2 separate regions of the Homo sapiens genome follow, and region 1 is linked to region 2. The links come from fine-mapping of genetic effects on gene expression. A gene starts in region 2. The other region holds a variant in brackets. All regions are shown on one strand. Distances are between the middles of the regions.

Region 1 (15,425 bases), 900 kb after region 2:
TAATTAAATAGAACTAACAGAAAAAAATCAAATTATTTAGTGGCAAAAATAAGTCAGCACTTAGCATTTATTCAACGTCATATGCTACCATTGCCACAGTTATGTGGTCTCTATGGCATTTCACTTTCCCAGTGAAGAAGCTTCTGTGAACAAACACAATCGTTAAAAACAGATTGAGCGTGAAATGAAGATGAGAACTTACATTCATTGGTAAAAACAATATCATGTGACTAAACTATAAAGGTAAACAAGTCAGTTAAACTGAGAACGCCAGGGCCTTTGGTCCCTTTATCATTTGTATTTTAAGTAACATTTTACAAAGTGTTAATGGTGTGTTATAGTTTACCACCTGCCACTTGAAGAACTGTGGTGTTGGGGTTAGTATCGTGTTTGATCCAGCTTTGTAGGGATGTTTCCTACTTTCGAAATGTCATGATATGCTTAAAACTATGTGCAAAAAAAGAGAATGAATTGGTTTTCGTTTCCCTCCTTTGTATTTGTTGTTAATCCGCTTCTCAATGTCCTGTCTGTGTGTTTCTGCTTTCATCCTTCTTTCTTACCACGCAACTATATCATTAGCCACAAGGCAGAACATGTCTTCTAAGCAAATGTAGCATTAAAAAGTCTCCTGGGAGAATTTTAGCAACTGTCGAGCTAAGGTCATGCCACAGTGAGAAACAAAGCAATGCGTAATAAGGACAGTCACTTAAACACGAGAAAGTTATTAATAAATCAGGAGAAATCAAGTGTGCATGAAAAGGCTGGGTATCATGTGTTCTGTGTTTTCAGATACAAGATTTATTACCTGTGTAATTGCTGTACCATGTAGGATATGCATTTGAACAAATGTTGTAAATTATTACAACGTACGCTACAGTGAAACCTCTTTATAATATTTCCACACATACTGGTTTCCCATCTGGGGAGTCCTGAATTACACATCCCTCTTACAGAGAAGTGATCCTCTAGGAGCGAGGCTCAAGATCATAACAATTCTCCCCATTTATTCCTCGACATTGTATTAGTGGTACCTGAGAGGTGGCTCATGGATGTTAAGAATACAAATATGAGCAAGAGGACCTCAAGATGCAAACAATCCAATTGAGAAAGGAGATTATAAACAGCAAACTGCTACTAAGGCTACTGCTGTTGCAGCAGTTGCTGCTGCTACTAATAATAAAAAAATAGAACGCCTGTGCCTTGTTCCGAAGAGCTGCCTTGCAAATGCACCTAAAAGGGGGAGAGAACCTTTTCTTTTAGCAAAATATAAGCATAAGCAAGTTAGTAATTACATACACTTCTGTTCCATTGTCTGTAAAGACACAAATAATTGCTGCCTCATGGAATGATTTTCAGGGTTAAGATACATATGGGAAGTGTTTAGCATTAAGCCACGAGCAACTAAGAGCTCAATGGATGGGAGCTATCTATTTATTGCTCTTTACTATTCATGTTAGTTGTATTATTGGAGGCATAATGACACAGTGAAAGAGGCTCTGCATCCAAGTAGGTCACAGCATCATTGGGGGCTTACAATATGCAAAGACGTTAAAACCGTAATCAACCAGGCATTATACGTGATAATTACAAATGAGTGTTAGGCAATACGTGCTGAAGGTGTTATTTTCATATACCCATTTATCTCCAAAAAAATAGAGTTGGCGTAACATTCTTGTTCATAAAAAGATCATAGAAACAGAACAAAAACGTTATATCCCGTTTCTGCTTTCAACATGGGTATTAGACTCATTTCTCCAAACAACTACGTGTCCAATATAGAGATATCTAAATATAAATAACAATTTTCAAAAGCCATAATCAATCCAATCCATCTAATCTAAAAGCCGACACCTAATCAGAGACACACAAGGACCAAAGTACCTGAATAATATATCAGAAATATTGATAAGCTTATCACATGTGCTTTTCTTTACAGCTTTTAAAATACAGAGTTATTGAGTTTGGGTGACTGTCCATTGTCTTTGTTGACACAAATAATTAAAACCTGCCATGACCATAACTTTCATACCTAACTTCAGGACAAAAATAACAATGGCCCTGACAGGACCTCTTTGGCCTAGACTGACAGCTGCTGTGACCGACACGCTTGTTCTGGGCTAATGGACATTGATGGACTTCCTGTGTGTCAGCTGAATCGGAGGTGATTTTCAACTGCTGAACAGGAGATGACCTGCTGGCTCATTGAATATGTGGGATACTTGGGAATGGGCTGATGAGAAAACTCATCTTCTGTACAGGTCCTTGTTGGGTCGAGACAGAAAGCGAAGGCTTTGTGCCTGTTACTCACTTGAGCTCATTTTGACCCAAACAAGTATCCAGAGGAATTAACTAGTGACCCAGGTGCAGGGTCGCACCTGTCCTCATGAGTGCCAATCAAACATTTTGGCTGGAAATTCCCCTCAAATGATGGAGGATACTGGCTTCAATCCTTTAAATGGGGCATATTTCCTTAGTTATTATACATGTCATAGGGGACAGAAAATTAAATATTATGACTAGAATGATTAATAATGATAGCATAAAACTTTAATTTTGTTTCCGTTCTCATTTTCGTGATATAATTACATGTCCCACTTAAAAATACAAAGGTTTGAAAGAAATCTCGCACACCACTGAGGCAGTTTACTAATACTCCAGGTGATAACAATACTGACAAAGTACCCTCATGCCTGCCTCCTTTTGACTGATTATTTTATTTATTTGTGTTTGTTTTGGTAAAGGGAGTAGGAGGAGAGTTGCTGGAAAGGCCTTATTGATGGGAATAGAAGAGGGAGAAGTATATAAATTTGAGAATGTGCAAAAGTAAACTAGGCATTCATTGTGAGGAAAAATGCTTAATGCAGTATCTGGAGCATCATTTTCCCACTGGAGTAAAGCTACCCAGTAATTATGTATTGCACCAAACAGCTGTAAAATCAGTAGAGCGGAATCTTTCTAAGTCCCATCTCTTTTAAAATGATGTTATAGCTATATTTTCATAAGAAAACAATGAGCCAAAGTATTACTATTAAGGAACTTGAACTCTTAATATAACAAATAAGGCCTCGGTTTTCACGTAATCAGAAAGAATGCAAATAATTATATCAACTTTGAAGATGTGCCAAAGATATAAAAATGGCTGAGAGATTTCTGCTGCTTTCCTGGAGACATAGTAGGGACAGAGTGATCTGCCACAATTTGGGGATAAGATTGGTAAAGTACTAACCTAAGCAAAAATATGAATGTTGAGAAATGTGCTGCCAGCGAGTTTTCTCAAGTCTCCATCAAGAGTGCAGAGCCAGGAAAAACGGATCACAATGCAATGATGTCAGCGTGATATAATGCTGGTGTCTCTCAACAGGTATTTCCATATTTCCATATGGAGTCTTAGAAATTAGAATACCAGCACTAGAGTCTATTTTTTTTTTTTTTTTTGAAATGGAGTCTCATTCTGTTGCCCAGGCTGGAGTGCAGTGGCATGATCACGGCTCACTATAGATTCTGCCTCCTGGGTTCAAGCGATTCTTGTGCCTCAGCTTCCTGAGTCACTGGGACTACAGGCGCGTGCCACTACACTGGGCCAAGTTTTGTATTTTTAGTAGAGACGGGGTTTCACTATGTTGGCCACGCCCATCTCAAGCTCCTGGCCTAAAGCAATCCACCCACCTCAGCCTCCCAAACTGCTGAGATTACAGGTTTGAGCCACTGCACCTGGCCTGGAGCCTCTCGTTGCATCTCTAACACTGTGCAGTGTGGAAGAGGTCCTATCTGCTGGGATGCACTATCAGGTTCCATTGTTTATCACTGATAAGGGGCATCAGGATCCTGTGATAGTATAATAGCATCCAAATTATCATTTATATCTCGAAATATTTTCACTTTTCATTTAGGTTACCAACATAGGTCAGGGTTTTCTGCTGAAGAGATGAAAAATCTTGCCTACGTTGCAGCATTACTTTAATTTTTAAGAAATGGACCATTCTAAATAGAACGTTAATGTTTTGTGAGATTGAATGTTGTGAATCCGTCCTGTAACCTGACATACAAAACCTGGGACCAGACGATGGATCTCAGTTGCCCATGCAGGTACCATGACCTGAATAAATGCTGCTGTTGTAGAGGTATCTGGTCTATTTTTGACAAGCTCTTAACTATAATCCATAGTAGAAAATTAAAGTGATTCATTTTGATATTATCCATATAAGCAAGCTGAACTGAAGAATTAAGTCAAAAGAAAATTATTTTAAAAATAATAAGCATATGTCAGTAATTTATTTTATTTTTTTGAGACAGGCTCCCTTGCTCTGTCACCCAGGTTGGACTGCGGTGGTGCAGTTATAGCTCACTGCAGCCTTGAACACCTGTGTCAGTTATTTATTGTTCTTGTTACAAGGTCCTCCAAAATCGTGGCATAAAACAGCAATCATTGGTTCTTTTGCATAATTTTACGCACTGGCAATCCAGGCAGTCCTGCTGGTCTAACTTGGGTTCACACATGCAGCTGCAGTGACCTGATGGCTTGCAGTAAGTAGAGCGTCCGGGCTGGCTTCACTCGCTCCTCTGGCAGTCTGTGCTGTCTGTTGTTTGAGGCACCTGACTCTTCTCCACATGGCCCTTCCACCACATGCTACTGGTCTCAGCATATCAAAAGGTCTGCCTGGTTTCAAGGAGCTGAAGAACACACCTCACCTGCTGGTTATAGGAACAGCAATGTCACAACAGCAACGTCACACTGCAAAGGGGCAGGCGTGCGACGGTGCTCTCTTCATTGGAGGCACGGTTCATTCCTGTCCTTCCCCACACCATCGGTCCCAGCGTTCCCACTGTACCTTTCACGCCTGCCCAGCGTCTCACTCGGTACATCGCTGAGGTTGCCTGTCCTTGGCAGCGAATGGGAAAGCAGAAGCAGGAGTTGTGGCAGCCACTGAAGAGTGATGTTTTTGTTGTTGTTTTAACTCCACATCTCTCTCCCTTTTTTTTTTAAGTTCATAGATCCATATTGATCCTCACCTAGAACAAAATCAGCCAAATGTATCAAAGATTTTAAAGAAAGATAAGCTGTAAAAAATGTTTCATAAAGTAAGGCAGGCGAGAAAATAAATGCTTATTTTAAAACTAAAATAAGAAAGTTGTACTTAAATACACTCACATCCAAGGTGGATTCACAACTTAGTGTTTGTTCAAACCTTAGGGTGCCCAGAGGTGTCGCGGCTGACTTGCTCATGCTGTTATTGCCTCTGGTAGCAAAGATATTTCCCAACTCCAAATTAAAACTAGTTTGCATTAGGAAAAAATCAAAATAAGTTTGTTTCTCATGATATGATGGAACAAAGCATTTTTAAAAAATCATTTTAAATGTGGGGAAAATAGATTTTTTTTGTTTAAATTGGAAGGAAAATAGGAAACAAAGAGAAGCATAAATAAGATTTCCAAAGACAAAGAAATACTAGGTACAAGGGAGCCTCTTAACAGTAGCTGGAAGGAAAACTAATGACATCCGAGGTTCTCAGGCCTCTGAGCAGCCTCTGCTGTTCTGATCTTAAACGTCAAACAAGCGGGATGTTGGGCCACTGGGACACGGATGCTCAGGAGCCTGCACTGGCTTCCTTTAAACCAATAAATCAAAATCCTCCTTGCGGAAGACGCGGGTTTCCACAGGCAGCTCCCCGTGGAGGGCTCCCAGCTGATCTGTCACGGTGCGGGATGAGGAGCCCGCAGCCCCTTCCAGTGCCCACCTCCACTCTGCACACCCGTCCCCTGCCCGTCTCCACACGCCCACACACCCCTCTCCCTGGATCGTGCCCACCTCATTCTCCAGTTACTCAGCTCCTACCATCCTTCAAGGTCCACCCGCTCCTGACATCCTCTGTTAACCTCTATCCAGTTATTCCAGGCTCCACCGGCATTTCCTTCCCTTCCTTGCCTAGGACATTTTCAGTGTGCACTATTCTTTTGGACTATGTGTACTATAATTTGAAAAGCTGCAACACCTGCCAGACCAGGGGCTTTTTATGTCCAGAGCAATAGATGGCGTCTATGGTGTTTTCCCATCTCCTGCTCTTTCTCTCCAATGGTGTCTCTGTCTCTTTGAGCAGTGATGGTCGCCCCATTGCGTATAGAGGAAATGGAGGAAAACTTGGAAGTACCGCCTTCCATACAAAGTCAAGGATCGAGACCTTCCTCTCCGCGTTCCAGAATCCCTCAGGAAATACGCGCGTGCCTTCGCATCTAGAGCAAGCGCTGCAAGAATTCACAGAACGGCCAGAAGTTCCCCATCCCGCTGGTGGCACTCACTGCGTTAGGCGCTCAGCCTCCAGTCCGGGCCGCTTTGGCTTGAAGACGGCCGTTTTCCTTCCTGATACCTGCTTCTAGTCTTTCTGCAACTTCTGGATTCCTGTCATTCTTATACCTGCTCTGGGCAGCCTTCCATTCATTCTGCGAATTCCGTGAAGCTTTTCAATAAATTGCTTTTCTCCAATTAGCCTAAATCTCTTTCAGTTATTGGCAGCCCAGTGCCCTGACCCAGCCAAGCACTGTAGACAGTCTACACGTGGCAGCATAACCTAAGACTGTAGGCAGTCTACGCGGGGCAGCATAGCCTAAGACTGTAGGCAGTCTACGCGGGGCAGCATAGCCTAAGACTGTAGGCAGTCTACGCGGGGCAGCATAGCCTAAGACTGTAGGCAGTCTACGCGGGGCAGCATAGCCTAAGACTGTAGGCAGTCTACGCGGGGCAGCATAGCCTAAGACTGTAGGCAGTCTACGCGGGGCAGCATAGCCTAAGACTGTAGGCAGTCTACGCGTGGCAGCATAACCTAAGACACACACACATATATTTATTTCACAGTGACAACTATTAGAGTATGTTTACATGGTTTCCTAGATAATAATGGCCTGGATACTCACAACTTGTTTGCTTCCTGTTGGAGAATAGAATTTTATCTAATTAGTGATTGTGTTTGTATATGGCACCCTAAACAAAAATACCTTCTTTTCTGCTCCATGGACTGAGCGAGATGAGACCACGTGGGAGGATGCAATAGAGGCCTATTGGCCACATTGTTTTGCTAACACTGAATCTCAGAGCTAAACGGGCTTCCCCCTTCCCATCCCAGAAGCCCTCCATCTCCCAAGGAGTGCAGTTTCTAAATAAACAGCCCAGCCCGGCATCAAGCAGCAATTCACTTAGCAAAGAATGGATGAGAGGGCTGAACAGAGTATTCAGTTTTCTGAAATTTTTCAGTAAGGCCATCACTCTCCCTTCCCAGGGGCAAAGTTAGTAAAGGGAAGGACATCAGTAGTAGGGCAAAAACCTATCCACTTTAAGAACTGCAATTAATTAATAAATGTTCCAGTTCATGCTGCAACTAGTTAATATGCATAGAAGCAGACACATTCCTGAACCATTTTGCCTTTAGGTGAGGCACATGCTCTCTTACTGAGCCACTGAGTCTCCCGAGTCAGCCTTTTAGTAGGAGCAGAGTTGATTGTCTTGACCAGAATAACTGCTTAGGAGAAAGGGTAGAGAGTGCCCCGCTGTGTGACCAGGACCCATCTTTAGATCACCAGTCCAGAGAACAGTGACACGCACTTGATCAGTGTGCATGCAACGATATGGATGGACAGCATTGCTTCTGAAAATAAATGTGTAATAATGCATACTTCTCTGGCTACCAAGGATGGCGGATAAAAATGTGAACTGGGCAGTTAGACTACCTGTGTTCAAGTATGAATCCACTCTTCGCTAGGTGACAGCTTGGGCAAGTGACTTAGCCTTTCAGTGCTTCTATTTCCTTATAAGTAAAATATAAGTGTGATAGCATCTATCTCTGAGTATTGTGTATGTCGTGCAGAGGAAATATAGACACGACATAAGGCCTGCCAATAGTAGGAACTAAAATATTTTATAAGATCATAAAGTTACTCATGAACTACATCTACACTTATTGGAGACTGATTTTTTTTAAGGATCCTTGTCATATGGGAAAGTACAAGGACATATGGAGATGCTGAGAGAATAACACTGGACAATACTTTGATGTTGACAGAGCCCCTTTCTCTGAAGTACCCAAATAATGCCTGTTTTTATATATTTGTCTTCATTATATTTGGCCATATATATTCTACTGTGCTAAATGTGGTCAGTGGCTTCAGTCCCTTCTAGGCAATCCTAACTTATGTAAATATGAAGACCAGGTAAAAAAGCCAGAATGGGTCAGGCGCGGGGGCTCACGCCTGTAATCCCAGCACTTTGGGAGGCCGAGGCGGGCGGATCACGAGGTCAGGAGATCGAGACCATCCTGGCTAACACCGTGAAACCCCGTCTCTACTAAAAATACAAAAAATTAGCCGGGCGTGGTGGCGGGTCCCAGCTACTCGGGAGGCTGAGGCAGGAGAATGGCGGGAACCCGGGAGGCGGAGGTTGCAGTGAGCCGAGATCCCGCCACCGCACTCCAGCCTGGGCGGCAGAGCGAGACTCCGTCAAAAACAACAACAACAAACAACAACAACAACAGCAACGCCAGAACGGAGAAGCCAAATAACCGATGCAACGAACTATGTGCACGACTCGCTGATTACAATATTTATATAATATTGAATTTTGAAACTTTGTTATCTGCATTTGTCCATTTGGGACAAAATAACTTGTTGTCTAT[G/A]TGTCTATGAAGAAGAAAATATTTTACATAGATTGAAGCTGATGAAATTATAACAGTTGGCAACAATGCCAGAGAAAAATAAGTATCTTAACTGGAAAAAATGAGTTTTAAAAAATAGATGAGAATAATATTTCCGAAAAGGAATGAAGATTTCGAGTGAATGTCGCGTGTGGCAGCATCCACAGCTCACGATCCCTGAGAACACACTATTAACTGCCTACTTCAGTCCTTCCCTACTTGAATAGACCCTCAGCTCAGTTTCAGTCTCTCTGAGGTCACTTCTGACTGTAAGCCAGATACTCATTTTCACATCTCACCTTTCCCCAAAAGCAGCTGGGTTGTCCTCCACTCTCATAACAAGGTTCCATGTCTTGAGAGACCCTTGTTTCATAATTAGAGGGAAATCTATTTTTACTTCCACTACCTCTGAGAGTCTTTGTAAGGGTTTGAGCTGGGGACTGGGATATACATTACATATTTTGGATAAAAACTCTTTCCTTCTATTATGGTTTTCCATTGTCCCTACATTACTGATCCTTACTTTGTCTCATTTCTAATGCCTGCTGTGGTCTTTTTCTGTACAATGTCCCAATATACTAGATCTCATATTCCTTCATTCCTCAAAAGGCCCACTACTAAGAAGACAGAGTACCAGAAAAGATTTTTCGAAACTTTGATTTAATAAGAAGGGTTTCTGAATGTGAATCTTCCACTAACTGCTGAAATTGGAATACTGCAGTCCTAGAAATTCCTGGGCGATTTACCTGCAAGAGATCATTTATCCTAGTCCTCGTTCATCACCAAAGCCTTCAGTTTTCACTGTTGAGGGGAGAATTTCTTTGCCCCTTTCTAGGTACCAATCAATCCTCAGCCTCCACATTTCTGTTATTTTCTCCTGCTAAGCAATTTTTTTCTGCTGCTTATCCCTGACAGGTTCCAGACATAACATTAGCACAGGAGAAAATGCATTAAGGTGTTGTGTTACATAAGCATCTACCCCCAGATCCTACTCCCTTATAATACAAGGCACTGAAAGAAAATGGGAAATAACACTTTCCTGTTTGTGATGATCTTATTTTTAGCGGGGCCCTCTTTCCTGCTGGTTTTTGAATATAGAAAAAGGCAACAGTGAAAATGTGTGTTCGACTTGTCCAAAGCAAACCCCTGGATTCCGTAGTTTTTGTTATACTTATTTATATGCATGAATTCTCACCTGTACTAGACTGTAAGATCCCTAAGGACAGCATTCAGTTTTCATAATAGGTGAACAGACTAGAGTACCTTAAAAATAAGCTAAAATATCTAAGAAGTAGCATCAGGTGTATCTCAGCCTTCCATAAATACATGCTCAGTGAATGGCAACAGAGATAAAGGACATGTTGAAGTAGGGCTGGGCACAGTGACTCACACCTGTAATCCCAGCACTTTGGGAGGCTGAGGCAGGTGGATCACATGAGGTCTGGAGTTCAAGACCAGCCTGGCCAAAATGGAGAAACCCTGTCTCTACTAAAAATACAAAATTTAGCCAGGCATGCTGGTGGTTGCCTGTAATCCCAGCTACTTGGGAGGCTGAGGTGGGAGAATCTCTTGCACCCGGGAGGCAGAGGTTGCAGTGAGCTGAGGTCATGCCACTGCATTACAGCCTGGGCGACAAGAGCGAGACTCCATCTCAAAAAAAAAAAAAAAAGCACTTTGAAAATAAAAAAACGTATACTAAAATAGTATACAACTGTACCTAAATTAAAATAATTTTTAAAAGTTGAACAGAGGGTAGGGAATTTCTAGTCATTGACTCATTACTTACCCTGTACACACCCCAAGGTGAATATGTAGCCAGGATTTAAACTGTGTTTTTTGTGCAGAATGTTCTAATGAGTGTCATGAAGGAATTTCAAAGAACAAAATAAGCATGGCTGCCTTGCCTTCATGAACCGTGTTACACAGAGATAGTGAGAAACATCACAAATGGGATTTCCCCATCAGTGGATCACTTCTGTCTCACAAAGCCAATTGGGTTGTCCCCCCACGGTGTTATGGGGCCAGTCCCTCTCATTACAGTGCTGGCACAGCAGCTTGGCCTGGAAGACACTGAGGTGGAGATCAAGGGAATCCTTTGGATGGATTCCTTGGTATTCTGCTACTGAGCCATGCTGGGAGGTGATACATCAGCACAGGGGGAGAAGCACTTCTCAGCATTCCAAGCAGCCTCCAAATCGTCATGAAAAGGACTCTGTCCACTTTATATAATGATAAAAGCAGAATCAAATGTCACATTTTCTCCATGTTAAACTTTTCCCATGCCTTGCATTACATTTGAGATCTGCTCTTCCATATTGTTAGTGAGATGAGAAATAAGGCCATGCATAGAAGAGCCCTTCGTCTGGGACGTGGGGAAGCAGAGCAGTCTATGAGCTACACTATCCAGGTGGCCTCTCTGGCAATGAGACGATGGGCTCTCCAGAGGGGCCTGAGGGACTTCATGGAGCTGTCAGTCCCATTAAGGTGGGGAGCAGGAGGCTGTGTCTGTTGAGCCAACCAATGGTGGTGGAGAGTCAGAGGCCATGTTCCTTTGCTGGGGCTACCGTAACGAAGTACCAGAGACTGGGCGGCCTAAACAAAAGCAGGTTATGTCAGCACAGCTCTGGATGGTGGAAGTCCAAGATCAAGAGGTTGGCAAGGTAGGTTCCCTCTGAGGCCCCTCTCTTTGGCTTGCAGATGTCCACTCTCCCTCTGTCTCTTTACAAGATCTTTCCTCTGTGCAAGGACATTTCTGGTGTACAAATTTCTTCTTCTTATAAAGACACCAGTCAGATTGGATTAAGGCCCATCCTAAAGACTTGAATTAAACTTTATTGTGCAATTTAAGACTGTATCTCCAAAATAGGCTGTATTCTGAAGTACTAGGGGTTAGAACTTCAATATCTGAATTTTGAGGGGACAGTGAGCCCATCACAGATGCCACACAGCCGGTAAATGGGAAGAGTGGAATGCTACCCTGAGTCTTTCTTGTGTGACAGGCTGATAAACTCCACATGCCAGGAAACATTCATTCAAACAAACAAGAATCTACTCCAAGTTTGGAGCCCTATTTTCATGCCACGGACAGTCCATATATCATCATTTTTCTGTAGGAATTCCATGAGATGCTTTGAAGTGACTTGCTAAAATAAAGTTTTACTCTCTAGAGAGAACATAGTTCTTTGAGATTGTATAATTTTGCAAATACTGAAAAGCAATCTTAATGAGCCACTACAGACAGAGGTTTAATACTAAATCTGCACAAACTTCTAATTCTAGCGTCAGACAACAGCAATTTATGCTCCAGGTAAGAATTTTGGAGAAAAAGCAAAACTGGATTTATGCAACAGATATTTATTTGAGTACAACTTTACATGCAGTACCCTAAAAGGTGTGATATAAGCTGAGAAACTTTAAAATTTAATGTGGCTCCAATAGAAACTTTTCACCTCTGAAAGATAAAATTAAACATTGGATAACTTCACAAAATGAATTTGAAACCCTTACAAATTTGGAAAAATTCACTCAGATAAACAATTTAAAATGAGAGGATTTTAGGAATATATTTTATGTGGAAGATAAAATTTTGTTCTATATTTTGAATGAGTTACTTTTTATAAATTGACAAGTCTTTATAATTTAATTTTAATTTAATATAATTTAATTTTGTAGTTTTAGCCATTTTCTGAGTCACATAAAACACTTACCTAACTCTAAAGAAATATAAAAACTTAAGCTTCAGTCATGAAAAATTTTTGTCTACATGAATGAGTATACTTTTCCTCAGGGTCTAAGAAATATTGAAAGCCTACCTTTGGATGACAGAAGGAGGATTTGTTTCTAGATCTGGTCATGAACCATTTCAAAAACCAAAGTCACATAATTCAGTTATTTATACAGAACAGAAAAAAAAATCACAACAAATAATGTCGCAAATAATTACTATTAATTCCAGTAAAATGATGCACTCCTAATGATGCACCTATAATTCAAGGTTATGGCTGTTTTGTAAGTTGATCTCTCTCTCTTTCTTGCGCTTGGGCGATCAATATATTTTTACTGAATATCTGCTACAACCCCAACCAAAACAAGCTACTATGGAAACAGTAATACATAAGATGAAATCTATAGTTCTCAAAGAGGCTATAATTTTGCATAAAAGTTAACAAATTTCATACATTAGTATAAAACACCAGTAAAAGAAAACACAGGTGAAGTAGTAATGTAAAAATTATAATCAAATTTAAGAGAGGTAGAGAACTCATTCTTGTTTGCTCATGTTGGAGAAGTCATATCAAAAAAAAGTTACGTATCTAGAATTCAAGGAGATGCTTAAAAATTAAAATTAATTTCATGTGAATAAAAATAGAAATAGGAGATGGAAGAGTAAATTCTAGGTAGAGGAAACAATACACTTCTGGGCAATAAATAGTTAAATTATGAAATAATGAGTCAATTCAGTTTGATTGAATGACTCTAAGTTATGCCTCAGGGAGTGCAGAGGAATGAATTTGCTTTTGGAAATATCATCTGGGTTATCTAAGAGAGTCTTGAATGACACAGTATGGCAATGGGGAACCTTTGTAAGTTTTTGAGTAGGTTAGTAGTATCAAAAAGAGTTGAGCTTGATATAAGACATGCATTTAGGAGTCATCTTCAAAGAGCTGAGAGTTAAAGCAATGGGCATGTTTATGATGCCTAAAACAAGGACTGAAGGTGGCATGACCTCACAACCTGATCTGCCCAGAACACTGCAGGTCTATTATGTATTGTCCTAATGTCCCCTTTGATTAGTACCCCTGTCTGTTTCAGAAATGTCACAGTTTGGATCATAATTTATATGGTCACCCAAAACAGAGAAAGCACAAATGGCTGGGTGCATTGGCTCACGACTGTAATCCCAGCACTTTGGGAGGCCGAGGTGGGCGGATCACAAGGTCAGGAGATCGAGACCAACCTGGCCAACATGGTGAAACCCCGTGTCTACTAAAAATACAAAAATTAGCCAGGCGTGGTGGTACACACCTGTAATCCCAGCTACTCATGAGGCTGAGGCAGGAAAATTGCTTGAACCAGGGAGTCGGAGGTTGCAGTGAGCAGAGATCACGCCACTACACTCCAGCCTGGCGACAGAGCAAAGCTCTGTCAAAAAGGAAGGAAAGAAGGAAGGAAGGAAGGAAGGGACTCACTTAATGATTATATTTAATAAATGGAAAACAAGTCCAGAAGGTGGTAATGGAAAAGTGGAGAGGAGAGTTTGGAAATCTCAATTGCATGCATTTGCCTCTATTTCTAGCTGGGCCATGCATCACTCTAGCATTCTTCATACCTGACATGCGTTTAGCTCAATTCACAGTCAGAGGGAAGAACTGCCCCATGATCATTCCGTTGGTTGTATTTCACTTTGGAATTACATTTCATTCTTTCAACATGATAACTTACTTTTCAAATTATTAATCTACCTTCAAAATAGTTCTTACTCGTTAAACTACTACCAGACTAAACTAAACCAAGAGAGACTGGTCATGATGGTGATAAATAGCACAGAATTGCGACTGAAAGCAATTTGTCAAGTGGATTATTAACGTGTTTCTAGAAGAAAGTTCACCTGTGAGAAGATGACTTTGTACCTCTTTCAATATGATTCAATCTATTTGCCTCCAATTCCTCCATTCAATTTCAAACTTCCTGCAGGCAGTAAGAGCCTCTTTTCTATTTTAGTAAAAAGCCTGCAAACATCAGATAAAAAGCGAGGTTGATTGATCGGCTGAACACGCAGCGCTCCATTAGGGAAGAATGCTGCCATGGTGTCCATACAGCAACCATTAAGAAATTTCGCTGGCTGTGGTGTGAACACACGTGTTTTAATAGCTTAACTTCTCTGCTGCTAACCTAGCACTGAATTTCCTCCATCAACATCAGCCTCATGCTTCACACTTTTATTGTAGCACATTTTCTCTACAGAAGTCTAATCTCATTGGAGAACATTTAAAGAAGATAGCAAATACTTTTTATAATAGCACTATATTTCTCTATTTAAATAGCAGTAGTTAGTGAGTTTTCAGCTATCCTAACGCCTATTTGCTTTTACTAAAACTTCCTCTTCATTGGAGAGCTGTGATAATGACTTATTTGGCAGAATATGCATTAAGGAACATCAGTATGTTAAAATCATCAATATTATCACAAACCGCCTACTAAAACATTGAATTTGCCCATTTCTTCCTGTTTCATTGCCTGCTCTAAGAAGGTGGTGTATAGCACACGCGCGTCCTTTTAACTAATGGAGATTGTGCAGTTTCTGTTGTTAAGAATTTGAGATTTTAAGGCCTATCATAACTGTAGTCTTATATTCGAAGTGCTTTATTTTACCCTGGTCGTTGTCACTTAGAATCATTCATGAAGCTTTGGTGTGGCCTTCCAGAAAGAGTGGCTTAACCTTTCATTTGTCGTGAAAATTAAAGAAACTCAGAGTAGTTTTACATTCACCATGTTTGAGAAAATAAAAATAATGATTTTAGCTTTTTAAATATTTTTGACTACACAATAAAATATACAGATAAAGGATAGAGTCCAGAGAATTTTAGACAAAAATCACTCTGTTAATTCTATTATGGTAATATTTAAGTCTGAATTCCTGGTTTGACTTTTGCTTACTCAGTTTCTTTTCATCACTTTAGGTCTCCCTAAATAAGAGTAATTTACTCTTATTGATAAATTGTTAGAATATAAAACGCGGTATTAGTACTT
Region 2 (15,425 bases):
AGCAAGGGGATGAACAATATAGCCTTTATTCTCCAGAAACAAACAAAGCACCTCCCCCTAAATCCTCAGGGAAGCTACGCAGATGGAAGCTCTAGAGAGCACCTCCCAGTGTCCAAGCTGGGCAACTGGTTGAGAGTGGCTGGGTTCCACACACCAGGAAACCTGTGCAGTTACAGTGCCCGGAACCTTCCCCACAGATATGGCCCCATGTCTTGCTGTGTAATGTTAAAGGCGAATATTGTCAAGCTGAATTGTGTCTTTAAATATTTCAGAGATAACAAGAGTGTTGCGATTTTTGTTTGTTTGTTTGTAATATTTTGACTCACCGTCAATCAGATTACACATTTTATTTCTGAAATATTCAGTGAGTTTTCTCACTCCTAAATAGTAGCTTATCTCTTCAGTTGAAATACGTGTTAGTCCGTAAAGGTCCAGATCGAATACCATTTCTCCCGGAAGTTTTTTCTAATTGTTCCAGCAAGAATGTCATGTTCCCGCCACTAAAATGCCAAAGCAGTTAATTAATTTAAATTCTACCACTCTCAGGGCACACGTCTTTTCATTTCGTAGATTTTTCTTCTTCTTTTGCACGTATATCTTCTGCTCCCAAAGAAGAGAAATAATTTTTAGTCACTTTCAGCACTGAGCTCATTGCTCTCTATATAATAGAGGCGCAATATCTAATCGTTAAATAAATAAAAGCTGCCATTGAAGTTGCAAACTATTAAAAAATTTTATTATATCACAGCTGAAACCAATCTTCAGAGACAATTTTATCCTTAAAGCTGAGGAAAATTGCTTCATTAATTGGCTTACTCCAAGTCACACCTCACATTTCTTAGCTCCTACTCTATTCTCCAATATTTCTTTACTGAAAAAACTGCTGACAAATTATTTAGAAGGTATATGTGTGTGTGTGTGTCTGTGTGTGTATTTGGAGACAGGGTCTTGCTCTGTCACCCAGGGTGGAATGAAGTGACAATCATAGCTCACTGCAGCCTTGAATTCCTGAGCTCAAGAGATCCTCATACCTCAGCCTCCCAAGTAGCTGGGACTATAGGCACACATCACCACTCCTAGCTAAATATATATATATATATATATATATATTTATATTTAGAGACAGGGTTTCTCTATGTTGCCCAGGCTGGTCTCAAACCCTTGGTTTCAAACTGTTCCCCCACTCTTCGTTTTATTTTTTAATTTTAATTTTTTTATTTTTTTTGAGATGGAGTCTCACTCTTGTCGCCCAGGCTGGAGTGTAATGGCACGATTCCGCCTCCTGGGTTCAAGCGATTCTCCTGCCTCAGACTCCCAAGTAGCTGGGATTACAGATGCTCACCACCACGCCTGGCTAATTTAAAAATTATTTTTGGTAGAGGCGGGGTTTCTCCACGTTGGCCAGGCTGGTTTCGAACTCCTGACCTCAAGTGATCCCCCAAGTGATCCGCCCACCTTGGCCTCCCAAAGTGCTAGGATTATGGGTATGAGCCACCGTGCCTGGCCTCCCCAACTCAGTTTAGCACCTTCTCACTTTTCCCTCCCCCAGTCCCTGGAAACCACCCTTCTACTTTCTGCTTCTGAGTTTGACTATGTCAGGTAACTTGTAGAAGGGGAATCATGTGGTATTTGTTCTCTGTGCTTGACTTATTTCATTTAGTATAATGTCCTCAAGGTCCATCCATGCTGTAGCATATGACAGGCCTTCCTTTTCAAGACTGACTTGAATATGTATAGTATATTCAAGAGAGTATATTCAATATAGTGCATTCAATATATGTATTGGTATGTGTAGATCTCATTTTCTTTATCCATTCATTCCTCGATGGACATTTAATTGTTTCCTCATCTCCGCTATTTTTTAAATTGTTTTGAGACGGGGTCTTACTCTGTTGCCCAGGCTGGATTGCAGTGGCACTATCACAGCTCACTGCAGCCTTGACATCTTGGGCTCAAATGATCCTCCCACCTCAGCTGGACTAAGGACCACAAGCATGGACCACTACGCCTGGCTAATTTAAAAAGAAGTTTTTTTGTAGAGAAGGGTCTGGCTATGTTGCCCAGGCTGAATTCCTGCTCTCAAGCAATCCTCCTACCTTGACCTTCCAAAGTGCTGGGATTATGGCATGAGTCACCATGCCTGGTCCCTCATCTCATAGCAATTGCCCCTATTTTGGATTTCCACCAACGGGGTTCCAATTTCTTCACATCCTCCCCAACTTTTGTTGTCTGTTTTTTGTTTGTTTTCTGTTTTTTGATAATAGCCATGTAACAGGTGAGAGGTGCTCTCTTTGTGATTGTAGATTTGCATTTCCCTGATGATTAGTGATATTGAGCATCTTTTCATATACCTGTTAGCCTTTCTATGTCTTCTTTGGAGAAATATCTGACTCTTTGGTCCATATTGTTATCTGGCTATTAGTTTTTTTGCTATTCAGTTATAGAAGTTCCTTATATATCTTGGGAATTAACCCCTTATCTGACATGTGATTTGCAAACAGAGTCAGCCCTCCAAATCTATGGGATCTGCATCTGTTGATTCAATCAACCGTGGATCAAAAATATTTTTTAAAAGACTCATTATGGGGCCAGTCATGGTGGGTCACACCTGTAATCCTAGCACTTTGGGAGGCGGAGGTGGGAGGATGGCTTCAGGCCAGGAGCCTGAGGTCAGCCTGGGCAACATACAAAGAACATATCTCTACAAATAAAATAAAATAAATAAAAACTATACAGGCATGGTGGTGTGCACTTGTTGTCCCAGCAACTCAAAAGGCTGAGGTGGGAGGATCACTGCAGCCCTGGGGGCCTGAAGCTACAATGAGCTATGATTGCACCACTGCATTCCAGCCTGGGTGACAAACTGAGACCCTGTCTCAAAAAAAAAAAATTATGTTCCTTACCTTGTTTAAAAATTGTTCTTTCTAGCACTTATAACTACTTAATATATATCTGTTTTTGATCTTATGCTTCTCCTTACTAAAATATAAATTCCATGATGGTAGAGATTTTCCTTTATTTTTTCCTAATTTCTCATTTATAAAGAAAAAGCTGGGGTGTTCATGTTATTTGTATTTCTTTCACATGTGTGGTTCTTTGATCTTCTGAAAATGTTATATAATATTTTATAATTTTATCACTCCTGTGCCTAAAATCTCTAGCAATTCCCATCGATTACAGAAAGAATTTCAAAACTTGGCGTAACACAGAAGCCTATTGTGATTGGCTCTCTGCTCACCCTCACCTCCAGCCCGACTCCCACTTCGTCAGGTTCTACAGTCTGCCAAAACCTCTAAGTTTTCTATTTTTGAAGTTTTTTTGTATTTAGAATGTTAACTATTTGGATGCCACATGCAGAGTGTGGGGGAAAAAAGCAAGAGCATTAAAAATACTTTAATACTTAAAAATAAATAATAAATGTGAAAGTCTGCAAATGTAGGCTTTTTTGGGTCATTCTCTAAACAACACAGTATAACATCGATTTACATAGCATTTACATTGTATTAGGTATTACATGTAATCTAGAGATGATTTATAAGTATACAGGAGGATGTGCAGGGTTAATGCAAATATTATGTCATTTTTTTTCCGGGACTGGAGTATCCCTGAATTTTGGTATCTGCAGGAGGTCCTGGAATGAGTCTCCTGCAGACGCTGAGGGGCCACTGCATTTTCTTTCGTTCCGCAGAATATGCATCTTCACGCTGTCGATCGTTTCCTCTGCTGTGCAGGAGCTTTTTGGCTTGATGTAGTTCCCTTTGTCTGTTGTTGCTTTTTTTGACCATGCTTTTAGTGTCACAGTCATGAAATTCCATACTTCTTCTGTGCTTTCATCTACACAAATACATATGTCAACATCTATAGCATGACCTCTTATTTTTAGGAAAAATACACAAATAGTGGAATATAATTTTTATTATTTAGACAAACTATTTTTGAGGGCAAAAATTTATTTCCCCTTAATGTCATATAATGGATGTCATATCATGTTAATGTATGTAAACAGATCTGCTTTTTAAAAAATGTCTATGTAGTAAGATGAAGGGCTATTATTTTGGCCTGGTGTGATGGCTCACGCCTATAGTTTCAGCGCTTTGCGAGGCCATGACAGGTGGATCACTTGAGGTCAGGAGTTTGAGACCAGCCTGGCCAACGTGGTGAAACTCCATCTCTGCTAAAAATACAAAAATTAGCCAGGCATGGTGGTGCACATCTGTAATCCCCAGTTACTCGGGAGGCTGAGACATGATAATCGCTTGAGCCTGGGAGCCGGAGGTTGCAGTGAGCTGAGATCACGCCACTGCACTCCAGCCTGGGCGACAGAGCAAGATTCCGTCTCAAAAAAAAAATAATAGTAATAAAAGCTATTATTTTAAGTATACATTCATGTAAGACTGCTCCATAATTTCAGAGTATATATTTGACAACTGTTGCAAATTCTCTTTCCTAGAAATATATAAATAAGGTGAAAAAAGCAATAAAAAAGGAAACATATGAGTAGAAATTCATACTTGGGAAAAAATAGACACACTCCCCCCTGCCCACGCACACACACATATATCCTGTATTTATCTACCTGGAATATACTTCGGTATAAGTTGCTGGGTAGAGATCAACTGAATTTATTTTTCCAGATGACTCCCTGACTTTCCCTAAACTGTGTGTTGAGTAACCTATCTTTTCCAGACTGGCATGAAATGACAGATATACAGAGGACCCTTGAACAACCTGGGTTTGAACTCCTCAACATGGACACTTATACACGGATTTTTCTCAATAAAAGTGACACCAAGAATGCCTGCCTCTCCTGCTCAGCCTTCCACTTCCTCTACCTATCTGGCCTCTGCCACCCCTGAGACAGCGAGACCAGCCCTCCCACCCCCACCTCCTCCTCCTCAGCCTACTCAAAGTGGTAACGACAAGGGTGAAGACCTTTATGAGGATCCGCTTTCACTTAGTGAATAGATTTTCTCGTAATAACATTTTCTTTTCTCTAGCTTATTTGATAAGAATAAAATAATACATGTAACAAAAAAATATATTAATTGACTGTTTCTGTTATTGATAAGGCTTGGTCAACAGTAGACTATTAGTAGTTAATGTTCTAGGAAAGTTAAAGTGTATTTTTGACTGTGCAAGGGGTCAGCACCTGTAACCCCTGCATTGCTCAAGGGTCAATTGTATTTTTTTAATCTCGCTCTGTGCCCAGGCTGGAGTGCACCGGTGATCATGTCTCACTGCTGGCTTCGTCTCCTGGGTTCAAGTGATTCTCGTGCCTCAGCGCCGAGTAGCTGGGATTACAGGCACCCGCCATCACGCCCGGCTAATTTTTGTATTTTTGTAGAGACAGGGTTTCACCATATTGGCCAGGCTGGTCTTGAACTCCTGACCTCAGGTGATCCACCTGCCTTGGCCTCCCAAAGTGCTGGGATTACTGGGGTAAGCCACTGGGCCTGGCTAACTTTATTTTTAAAGCTAGGCTTTCAAGCAATGTATTTTTCAAATAAGCTCCCAACTAGTCCACCGCCTCATCAACAAATAAGCCCTTACTGTATCTATAAAGTTCATTTTTTTCTGCATGTGCCAACCCTGATGGCATCTGGGTGATAGTTGTGACAGTGACCCTCTTGGAGTACTCCTAGCATCACCCTCTCAGGAGAGAAAGGCCAGAGAAGAAGCTACTTGAGTTGTTGATCTCAGAAGCCGTGTCTGGTAGTGTGATTGGGTCATATATTTTGGGAAGGCTGGTCTATTCTATGAATGCATTTCATCTATGAATTAAGCCCAAGCAAAATGTTGAGAAAGATGGTAAGGAAGTCTGCCTTCCCAAGAGTGAATGTGGTCAGTGATTTCAGATGCCTGTCACACCATCACTCCATAATGACAGCTGTCTGACTTCCTTCTCACAGCAATTGGACAATGTTCATTTTTTTTTTTGAGATGGAGTCTTGCTCTGTCTCCCAGGCTGGAGTGCAGTGGAGCGATCTCGGCTCTCTGCAAGCTCCGCCTCCCGGGTTCACGCCATTCTCCTGTCTTAGTCTCCCTAGTAGCTGGGACTACAGGTTCCCACCACCACATCCGGCTAATTTTTTGTATTTTTTTAGTAGAGATGGGGTTTCACCGTGTTAGCCAGGATGGTCTAGATCTCCGGACCTCGTGATCCACCTGCCTTGGCCTCCCAAAATGCTGGGATTACAGGTGTGAGCCACCGCGCCTGGCCTGCAATGTTCATTTTATTGAGATAACTGGAAATTTTCACCCACTCACAAGTCAACAAGTGGATGCAGTATAGTGTGTTGACAAAAGAGAAAGACTGGGAGGTAGGCGCTCCAGTTTCCTAGTCCTAATCCGGCGTATGTGGTAAGTGAGTATCAGGAGATGAATTTAATTTATTCTAGCCTCAGTTTTCCTCAGCATCTGTAGAAGGTAGTTGGACTATATGATCTCTTGACTTCCAGCTAAATATAAGACTATGATTCCATAATAATATAGTTCCTCTATTCATTTATAACTCATTAACAGAAAAATCGAGCCACGTGCAAAGAATTCTTGTAGTCATCAATGAATAACACGTGGTTATTGTGTTACGATGCCTATAAAATAAAAAAAATTATCTGGAAGAGGGAAACGGGATAGAGCAGATCAGTGTGACTTGAACAGAGACTATGCCAGCCTCCCTATTCCAAATTGGAATACTGGCTCTGTGATGTGCTATAACTGTATTGTGAGGCTTATTCTAATGATTTTGGTAAATGTTAAAGACTCCTCCTGGGGTTGTGTTGAAATAACACACTGAATGGAGATGGTAGTTCATAAATTCTTTTTCTAGTGGTGGCAGTTAGTGTTATTGTAGTCTTTTTTTTTTTTTTTTTTTTTTTTTGAGATGGGATCTTTCTCTGTCTCCCAAGCTGGAGTGCAGTGGTGGGATCTTGGCTCACTGCAACCTCCACCTCTTGGGTTCAAGTGATTCTCCTGCCTCAGCCTCCCAAGTAGCTGGGATTACAGGCGTGCAACACCACACCCAGCTATTTTTACTTTTTTTTTTTTTTTTTTTGAGACAGAGTTTCGCTTTTGTTGCCCAGGCTGGAGTGCAATGGCGTGATCTCACCTCACTGCAACCTCCACCTCCTGGGTTCAAGCAATTCTTCTGTCTCAGCCTCCTGACTAGCTGGGATTACAGGCATGTGCCACCATGCCCGGCTAATTTTGTATTTTTAGTAGAGACGGAGTTTCTCCATGTTGGCCAGGCTGGTCTCGAACTCCCGACCTCAAGTGATCTGCCTGCCTCAGCCTCCCAAAGTGCTGGGATTACAGGCATGAACCACTGCACCCGGCCTAATTTTCATATTTTTAGTAGAGACGGAGTTTCACCATGTTGGCCAGGCTGGTCTTAAACTCCTGACCTCAAGTGATCCACCCACCTCGGCCTCCCAAACTGCTGGGATTACAGATGTGAGCAACCGCGCCTGGCCAAACTTTTTTTCTTTTTTTTTTTAAGACTCTTACAAGACTAACTCATAGCAATATTCTGAAGCTGTGACAAGTTAGTATCCTGGAGGCTATCTTGGTAGAGGTTTCATGATGCCACCCTGATGCCACCTCTCTTCCTCTTTACAGTAGTATAACTCTTTGCTCTTATTTTTTCATAGCTTAAATTCTCATCCTAGCAATTCACGTATGCTTTACAAGGGATGTATAGGATTGAAACATTTTGAATTAATGATTTCAGAAAGGTGAGTTTTGACTAGGAGAAAGGAAGGTGGAGGAAAAAACATTCTCAGCCAGAAAACTTCTTTTTCCCAAAGTTCAAGATAAGAAAACATCCAACATCCTGTTGGAGGTAAGTGGGAAAGAAGTAGCAGTTGGAGCCTTGAAAGTCAGAAACCAATGAACGGAACAGCCTGAGTAATGGACCCGACTCGTGGAAGGCTGCCAAGCTGGAGAGTGAGGGGACGGAGACAGAAATATGGCGTGATGAGTTCGTGGGAAGGTCAAACTCGCTGGCCTTTGAGGAAGAGCTTTTGAGGTGCAACTTCCTGGCATGCAGTGAGCAGAAGGCAGGCCAGGACAGGAGCTGACTCCCGAGCAGGGGACACAGTGAATTTGTGGCATTTGTTACCAATCTCGGAGTTCACTGTGCACAGTCTCCACACTAGGCATTTACTTTTTCATATGTCCGAAAAAATGTCTGCACACTTCATTTCTGTCCAGTAAGAACTGATAATCAGGGATTTGAAGGGGCCTAGTTTGGAAATTTTCAATGGGTGAAAATAAGTGAGCAAAATTACATTTATACTAAAATATAATTCTTTCCATCTGCTCCATAGTGGGATAGCCTCTTGAGGCAACTTCCAATTAGAATGTCATTTTAGATGCTTTCCAAGATGGCAGATGGGTGAGTACTAGGGTGTGCAGGGAAGATCAATAAACAGCTCTGGCAATTCATCGTGCGCCTAACACCAAGGAATACTTCAGTGGAAGAGCTCTCATTTTGTTGGGATGAATAAAATTAAATAAAAGTACACAGTACCCAATAAAGGAACAAAAGCTTAGGCTTTGGTCAAGCAGAACAAAAGGGGCTAATGAGAAAAGGACTATGTATTACAGTTTTCTTCTCTCAGTTCTCAACTAGGTTTTATTAGTGGAGTTCCCAAAAGATTTGGACCAAATTTCCAATTCAGATATTATTAGAGATCATCAAAACTCAAATCTCTTTACTGGTTTACACCAAATCACCCAAGCTTCCAGCCTAAAACCCACATGCTCACATGGTTCCACAGTGCTGTTTATGTACAATAACCAGTTCTCAAAATGGTAATCCTGTTAGAAGCCAGAATCCTCAGCCTCTAGCATGTGTGCTTTTCACAGAGATAAGTCTCAAAGTTTGGGGTTGGTGAGGAGCCCAGTATACAGGAGTTCCACATTAAGTCATAATTGGCTTTGTGTTGGACAGTGTATGTCAGCTGGTGAAATCAGGCACAGAAGAGATAAGGGTTTCTTGTCATAACAACATAGGAACAGGTCACCCGCGTGTTACTCAAAACTGTAGGACGGCAGTGAGGGCTTTGCTAATCCCAGAACAGAGGTGTAACCTGGCTGCATATCCAGCCTCGAGAAAATGTCTACAGCAGATCTGATGGAGAACCTCAGGGAGGAACTCACCTGTTTCATCTGCTTAGACTATTTCAGCAGCCCAGTGACCACCGAGTGTGGGCACAGCTTTTGTCTGGTGTGTCTCCTCAGGAGCTGGGAGGAACATAACACACCTTTATCTTGTCCTGAGTGCTGGAGGACCTTGGAGGGCCCGCATTTCCAGTCAAACGAGCGTCTGGGGAGGCTGGCCAGCATCGCCAGGCAGCTCCGGTCCCAGGTGCTGCAGAGCGAGGATGAGCAGGGCAGCTACGGGAGGATGCCCACCACTGCCAAGGCGCTCTCCGATGACGAGCAGGGTGGAAGCGCCTTCGTAGCCCAGAGCCATGGTGCAAACAGAGTGCATCTCTCCAGCGAGGCTGAGGAGCATCACAGAGTAAGACAGCTGCTCAGCATGAACCCCACGACTCATCGCAGCTAACTCCGTTAGCTTTCCTGACGTTTCCTAACGTCCTCTGTGGGGGACAGTCACGAGGGCCCATCTGAGCACCACATCACAAACTGGCGTGGGTCCAGTTTACACCCTTTTTTTTCCCTTTTTTTGTTTTTGAGACAGAGTTTTGCTCTGTTGCCCAGGCTGGAGTGCAGCAGTGCGATCTCAGTCACTGCAACCTCCGCCTCCCAGGTTCACGCCATTCTCCTGCCTCAGCCTCCCCAGTAGCTGGGACTACAGTCACCCACCACCACGCCCGGCTAATTTTTTGTATTTTTAATAGAGACGGGGTTTCACCATGTTGGCCAGGCTGGTCTTGAACTCCTGACCTCAGGTGATCCGCCTGCCTCGGCCTCCCAAAGTGCTGGGATTACAGGCGTGAGGCGCCGCACCCAGCCTGCCCTTTGTTTTAGAGGCCTAGGACTGCGCAGTTACTGGTCTTCAAAGCCCCTTCATGACCTGGGACTCTGCTCATTTGCCAGAAAGGGTTTGTTTCTATTGCAGGAGAAACTCCAGGAAATCCTGAATCTTTTGCGTGTAAGGAGAAAGGAAGCTCAGGCTGTACTAACCCATGAGAAGGAGAGAGTGAAACTGTGCCAGGTCGGTGTCTGTCTGACTTTTGCTGCTTGTATATGACCCCATAAGGGGGACTAAAGGGAAATTTAGTGAAATATCAGGAAAAAAAAAAGACAAATTTTTCCAGTCTCACCTCTAAAATATGCAGTTTCCTTGCATTGGGCTGCCTTCTTCTGAGCGTCCTCGTGGGAGTCTCAAGGCTCAGCTGCAATTCGCCCCCTCTAGGAGCCTCCTTTGCATAACTAGACAACGCTGTGGCTTCCTCTATGATGGCTCTGGTAGAATTATTTAAAACACAAGTGATACTTATAGACATGTAACATGAGACGGAAAGCGATTTTAAAAAGAAATATCTCAAAAACATGGAGGGGAAAATGCAAATTAAAAAAAATAAAGAGACAGAGATATAAAAGCAAAATAGTGGTTTAAATGATACCTGACAAGTCCTCAAGGTTGGTCACGGACTTGGATTTGAGCTCTCCAGCAGTCAAAGCAAAGGACTAAATATCAAATTATATATTTTTTAAAACCATGTATCTGATTCTCCCAATAGACTTTGAAATCTGTTTTTTTTTTTTTTTTTTTGGAGATGGAGTCTCTCTCTGTCGCCCAGGCTGGAGTGCAGTGGCGCGATCCCGGCTCACTGCAACCTCCACCTCCCGGGTTCAAGTGATTCTCCTGCCTCAGCCTTCTGAGTAGCTGGGATTACAGACGTGTGCCACCATGCCCAGCTAATTTTGTATATTTGTGGAGATGGGGTTTTACCATGTTAGCCAGGCTGATCTCGAACTCCCGACCTCAGGTAATCCACCTGTCTCGGTCTCCCAAAGTGCTGGGATTACAGGTGTGAGCCACCGTGCTTGGCCGTAGACTTTGAATTCTTAAGTGAGAGTATTTGCCATGTATGTTTCTGTTCCTTTTTGGTTATCTGACACCTACTTTCATTGAATAAATATTTGTTGAATAAATGAACACACATTTTTCATAATTTTTCTTAATTTTGTTTTATTTGTATCATAGTCCTGATCACTACTTGTCATATTTCTTACTCATTTTTGGTTTTCTCCACTAGAACGACCGCCTCCTGGGAATGGAGATTTTGGTTTTGTTTACTATTGTATCTATAGCGCACATACCTCCGAAAACATCAACCTCTACACCCAGCGCATCAACAGATTAAATGTATTATATGTTGGATTTCAGGAATTGTTGCCATGAAACTCTAGGACTTGGCCAGGCATGGTGGCCCACACCTGTAATCCCAGCACTTTGGGAGGCTGAGGAGGGTGGGTCACCCGGTCAAGAGACTTGAGACAATCCTGACCAACATGGTGAAACCCCATCTTTACTAAAAATACAAAAATTAGCTGGGCGTGGTGGCACACTCCTAGACTATAGTCCCAGCTACTCAGGAGGCTGAGGCAGGAGAATCATTTGAACTCAGGAGGCAGAGGTTGCAGTGAGCCGAGATTGCGCCACTGCACTTCAGACTGGCGACAGAGTGAGACTCCATCTCAAAAAAAAAAAAAAAAAGAAAGAAAGAAACTCTAGGACTTGTAAGGATTAAAAATCTACAGACAAGGGCATTTCTCTTACTAACTTTATCTCGTGTGTGTGTGTGTGTGTGTGTGTGTGTGTGTGTGTTTTGGCAGGAAGAAACAAAGACTTGTAAACAGGTTGTTGTGTCAGAATACATGAAAATGCACCAGTTCCTGAAGGAAGAGGAGCAGCTGCAACTCCAGCTACTAGAACAGGAAGAGAAAGAGAACATGAGGAAGCTGAGGAACAATGAGATCAAACTGACCCAGCAAATCAGAAGCCTAAGCAAAATGATCGCACAGATTGAGTCCTCAAGTCAAAGCTCGGCTTTCGAATCTCTTGAGGTGAGAATAACATTCATGAGAGTAATGGGAAAAATTATAGTAACTCATAGTACTTCAAGCCATAGGAAATAATGTTTTCTTTATTCATCTTAAAAACTAAGTTCTGGTCCAAAAGTAGTTTTCCTAAAGAATTGACATTCTATATGTCAATAAAGCCTTATAGAAGAGAGAGAGAGAGAAAAAAAAAAACACATCCAGAGGAATAACTATCCCAAACAAGCCTGAGAGTGGCTTCAATTTCTTCTGTACCTGCCTCTCTGCAACCTCAGCTTTGTTAATTTTTTTTTCTAGTTTATTAATGTGTATTTACTATGTGCTGGGCACATTAAATTTAATCTTCACAAAGACCTGATGAAGATAAGTACCATTATGATATGAACTCTAGGTCTAGATGACTGTCATCTACAGGATGGGTTAATAGCGGCACTGATTTAATTATTCATACCTGTGGTACTAACGAGATCTGCCCGCCTGATAGTTAATAGACAGGAGAGCCCTCCTGTTCTGTGCAGGGAGCTCCTATTTCTCACCACCTTTGGTCTACTGCCCTTCTAGGCTGCTGCATTCTTCAGGACCTTTTTTTTTTTTTTTGAGACAGAGTCTCGCACTGTCGCCCAGGCTGGAGTGCAGTGGTGCAATCTTGGCTCACTGCAATCTACGCCTCCTGGGTTCAAGCAATTCTCTTGCCTCAGCCTCCCAAGTAGCTGGGATTACAGGCGTGTGCCACCATGCCCAGCTAAGTTTTGTATTTTTAGTAGAGACGGGGTTTCACAATGTTGGCCAGGATGGTCTCTATCTCTTGACCTTGTGATCCATCCACCTTGGCCTCCCAAAAGGCTGGGATTACAGGCGAGAGCCACCGGCACCCGGCCGTGGACTTTCTTAAACATAAGCCATGTGATCCAACTCCAGCTTCAGGTCTGTTTTGTAGACTGGTTCCACAGAGTGCTACTATTTAATTTAGTGCCTTCCAAACACACCACCCCGACCTGACACAGGCTTGGTTAGCCTCAGTTCTCACCAGCCCATTTTCCTTTGTTATCTCTGCCTCTCACTGGATGATCGAGACTAACAGGTTGGCTTGTTTGCAGAACAGGTTCCCTGGACAAGGTGATGATACGAGAAAAAGAAAAGGACAAAGTATTCTCTAGTCATTGTGAGAAACACCTTGTGTTCACCACAGCACATCCCTGGAAGAAACTGGGGACGCTTTTCTCTGCTCTCTGTGCTCCCACTCATGGTGTGCTTCATGGGAAGCAGATTCTGTGAGCTTTGCAAGGACTGTATGCAAAATGAATTTCGTCTGTGTTATGATCAAAGCGCACCATGCTAACTTCTTTCTTTTTTACCCGTAGGAAGTGAGAGGAGCCCTGGAAAGGTAGGCTTTCATTCTGTGTTCAGTTATGCAAGCTGCGGGGCAGTGGTGCTGATGGACAGTTCTGAGTGGGGATAGGAGGTCTGCGCTGTTGCTGGGGGAGAAATGAGGTGGACTCTCCAGCTGGAGCAGGTCACGCGGTCTGTGCCGAGGAGTGAACCTCTCTGCTCTCTTGCAGGAGCGAGCCACTCTTGCTTCAGTGTCCAGAGGCCACCACCACAGAGCTGAGTCTGTGCCGCATCACGGGAATGAAGGAGATGCTAAGAAAATTCAGCAGTAAGTCAGCCTGATTTGTTACCCCTCCGGGGCTCGAAGAATTAACTTCAGCATACCTTCTTCCAGTGTCAGACATTCACGATCTGACACGAGGCTCCTGGTTAAGGAATCCGGGCCAGCACGGAACACCAGGGAGGGCTGGGGCCACAGACCGTCTCTGAGCGTGAGCAGAGAGAAGCAGTGAGACTTGACTCAGGCTTTATCTGGCTTTGTTTTCTGTCTAAAGGGTCTTTTTTTTTTTTTCTTTGAGACGGAGTCTCACTCCGTGTCCCGGGCTGGAGCGCAGGGGCGCGATCTCGGCTCACTGCAAGCTCCGCTTCCCGGGTTCACGCCATTCTCCTGCCTCAGCCTCCCGAGTAGCTGGGACTACAGGCGCCCGCCACCACGCCTGGGTAATTTTTTGTATTTTTAGTACAGACGGGGTTTCACTGTGTTAGCCAGGATGGTCTCGATCTCCTGACCTCGTGATCCGCCCGCCTCGGCCTCCCAAAGTGCTGGGATTACAGGCGTGAGCCACTGCGCCCAGCCAATCCTAGTCCTTTCTTTGTTGGTTTTGTCATTGTCTTTTCCATCCCCCCCTTGCACGTGCAGACACGCCCCCCTCATGCAGGGGCGTCTACATTTCTAGCTCTGATCCCGTTAGGATGAAAGCTGACTTAAATTCTAAAATCCCAGTGAGGGTGCATTCAACGAACTGTCCTTGTAGAATGCTCCAGATGTTTAGTCCAGCCAACACTGAGAGACGTCAGGATTAGTTCTCAGCTTTTATCTTGTGGACAATCTGACCTTCAGAGGAAGAGGCCTAATGAGCTTTGAACTCCAGAGTGCTGAATAAAGCCCTGCCATGGGCCCCGGCACTATGCTACTGGGCTCTGCGCTTACTTACAATGATAAGTAAGGCAGATTTTGCCTTTCCTTTTGTAGAATTTTCAATGAAATTGAGGAGGAAGGCATTAATCACACAGATAATTAGTTATGGTGGGATCTGGTCTATAAATAAAAGTATGAAATGGTATGATTGGGGCCGGGTGCGGTGGCTCACGCTTGTAATCCCAGCACTTTGGGAGGCCAAGGCGGGCAGATCACTTGGGGTCAGGAGTTCGAGACCAGCCTGGCCAACATGGTGAAACTGCGTCTCTGCTAAAAATACAAAAAAAAATTAGCTGGGAGTGATGGTGGGCACCTGTAATCCCAGCTACTCGGGAGGCCTAGGCAGGAGAATCACTTGAACCCAGGAGGTGGAGGTTGCAGTGAGCAGAGATGGCGCCATTGCATTCCAGCCTGGGCGACAGAGCGAGACTCCGTCTCAAAAAAAAAAAAAAAAAAAAAAAAAAAAAAAAAAAGTCAGAAATGGAATGACTGGGGTACCTGATCTTGTCTGGACAGTGAGTGGAAGTTGGAATCCTCAGCCAGGCATGGTGGCTCATGCCTGTAATCCCAGCACTTTGGGAGACTGAGGTGGGTGGATCACCCGAGGTCGGGAGTTTGAGACCAGCCTGGCCAGCATGATGAAACCCCATCTCTACTAAAAATACAAAAAACTAGCCGGGCGTGGTGGTGGACAAGACTACTACTCGGGAGGCTGAGGCAAGAGAATCACTTGAACCTGGGAGACGAGGTTGCAGTGAGTCAAGATCGCGTCATTGCAGTCCAGGCTGGGCAACAAGAGCAAAACTGTCTCAGGAAAAAAATAAAAAAATAAAAGGAGGCCCCATATGTGACTGTCGGTTCA

Which allele goes with the higher level. Positions count from the first base shown, and alleles are read on the strand shown. Sizes are in standard deviations (SD) of each study's normalised expression.
For the expression in monocytes after interferon gamma of the gene that starts at base 9,001 in region 2, A is the high allele of the variant in region 1 and G is the other (small effect, 0.39 SD a copy in Fairfax 2014).

What was found. PIP is the estimated chance that this variant, and not a neighbour inherited with it, causes the effect.
Region 1: its variant is fine-mapped to the expression of TRIML1 in monocytes after interferon gamma (Fairfax 2014, PIP 0.94).

What each region holds. Positions count from the first base shown.
Region 1 is chr4:189,029,525-189,044,949 of GRCh38, forward strand. No RefSeq gene overlaps it. Among named protein-coding and RNA genes, the nearest start is that of LINC02508, 260 kb to the left of the region's middle. The variant G/A (reference allele first, on the strand shown) is at 8,658.
Region 2 is chr4:188,130,441-188,145,865 of GRCh38, forward strand. TRIML1 (tripartite motif family like 1) reads left to right here and starts at 9,001. Exons shown (of 6, transcript NM_178556.5): 1 at 9,001-9,526; 2 at 10,088-10,183; 3 at 11,812-12,042; 4 at 13,398-13,420; 5 at 13,596-13,693. The coding sequence starts at 9,119.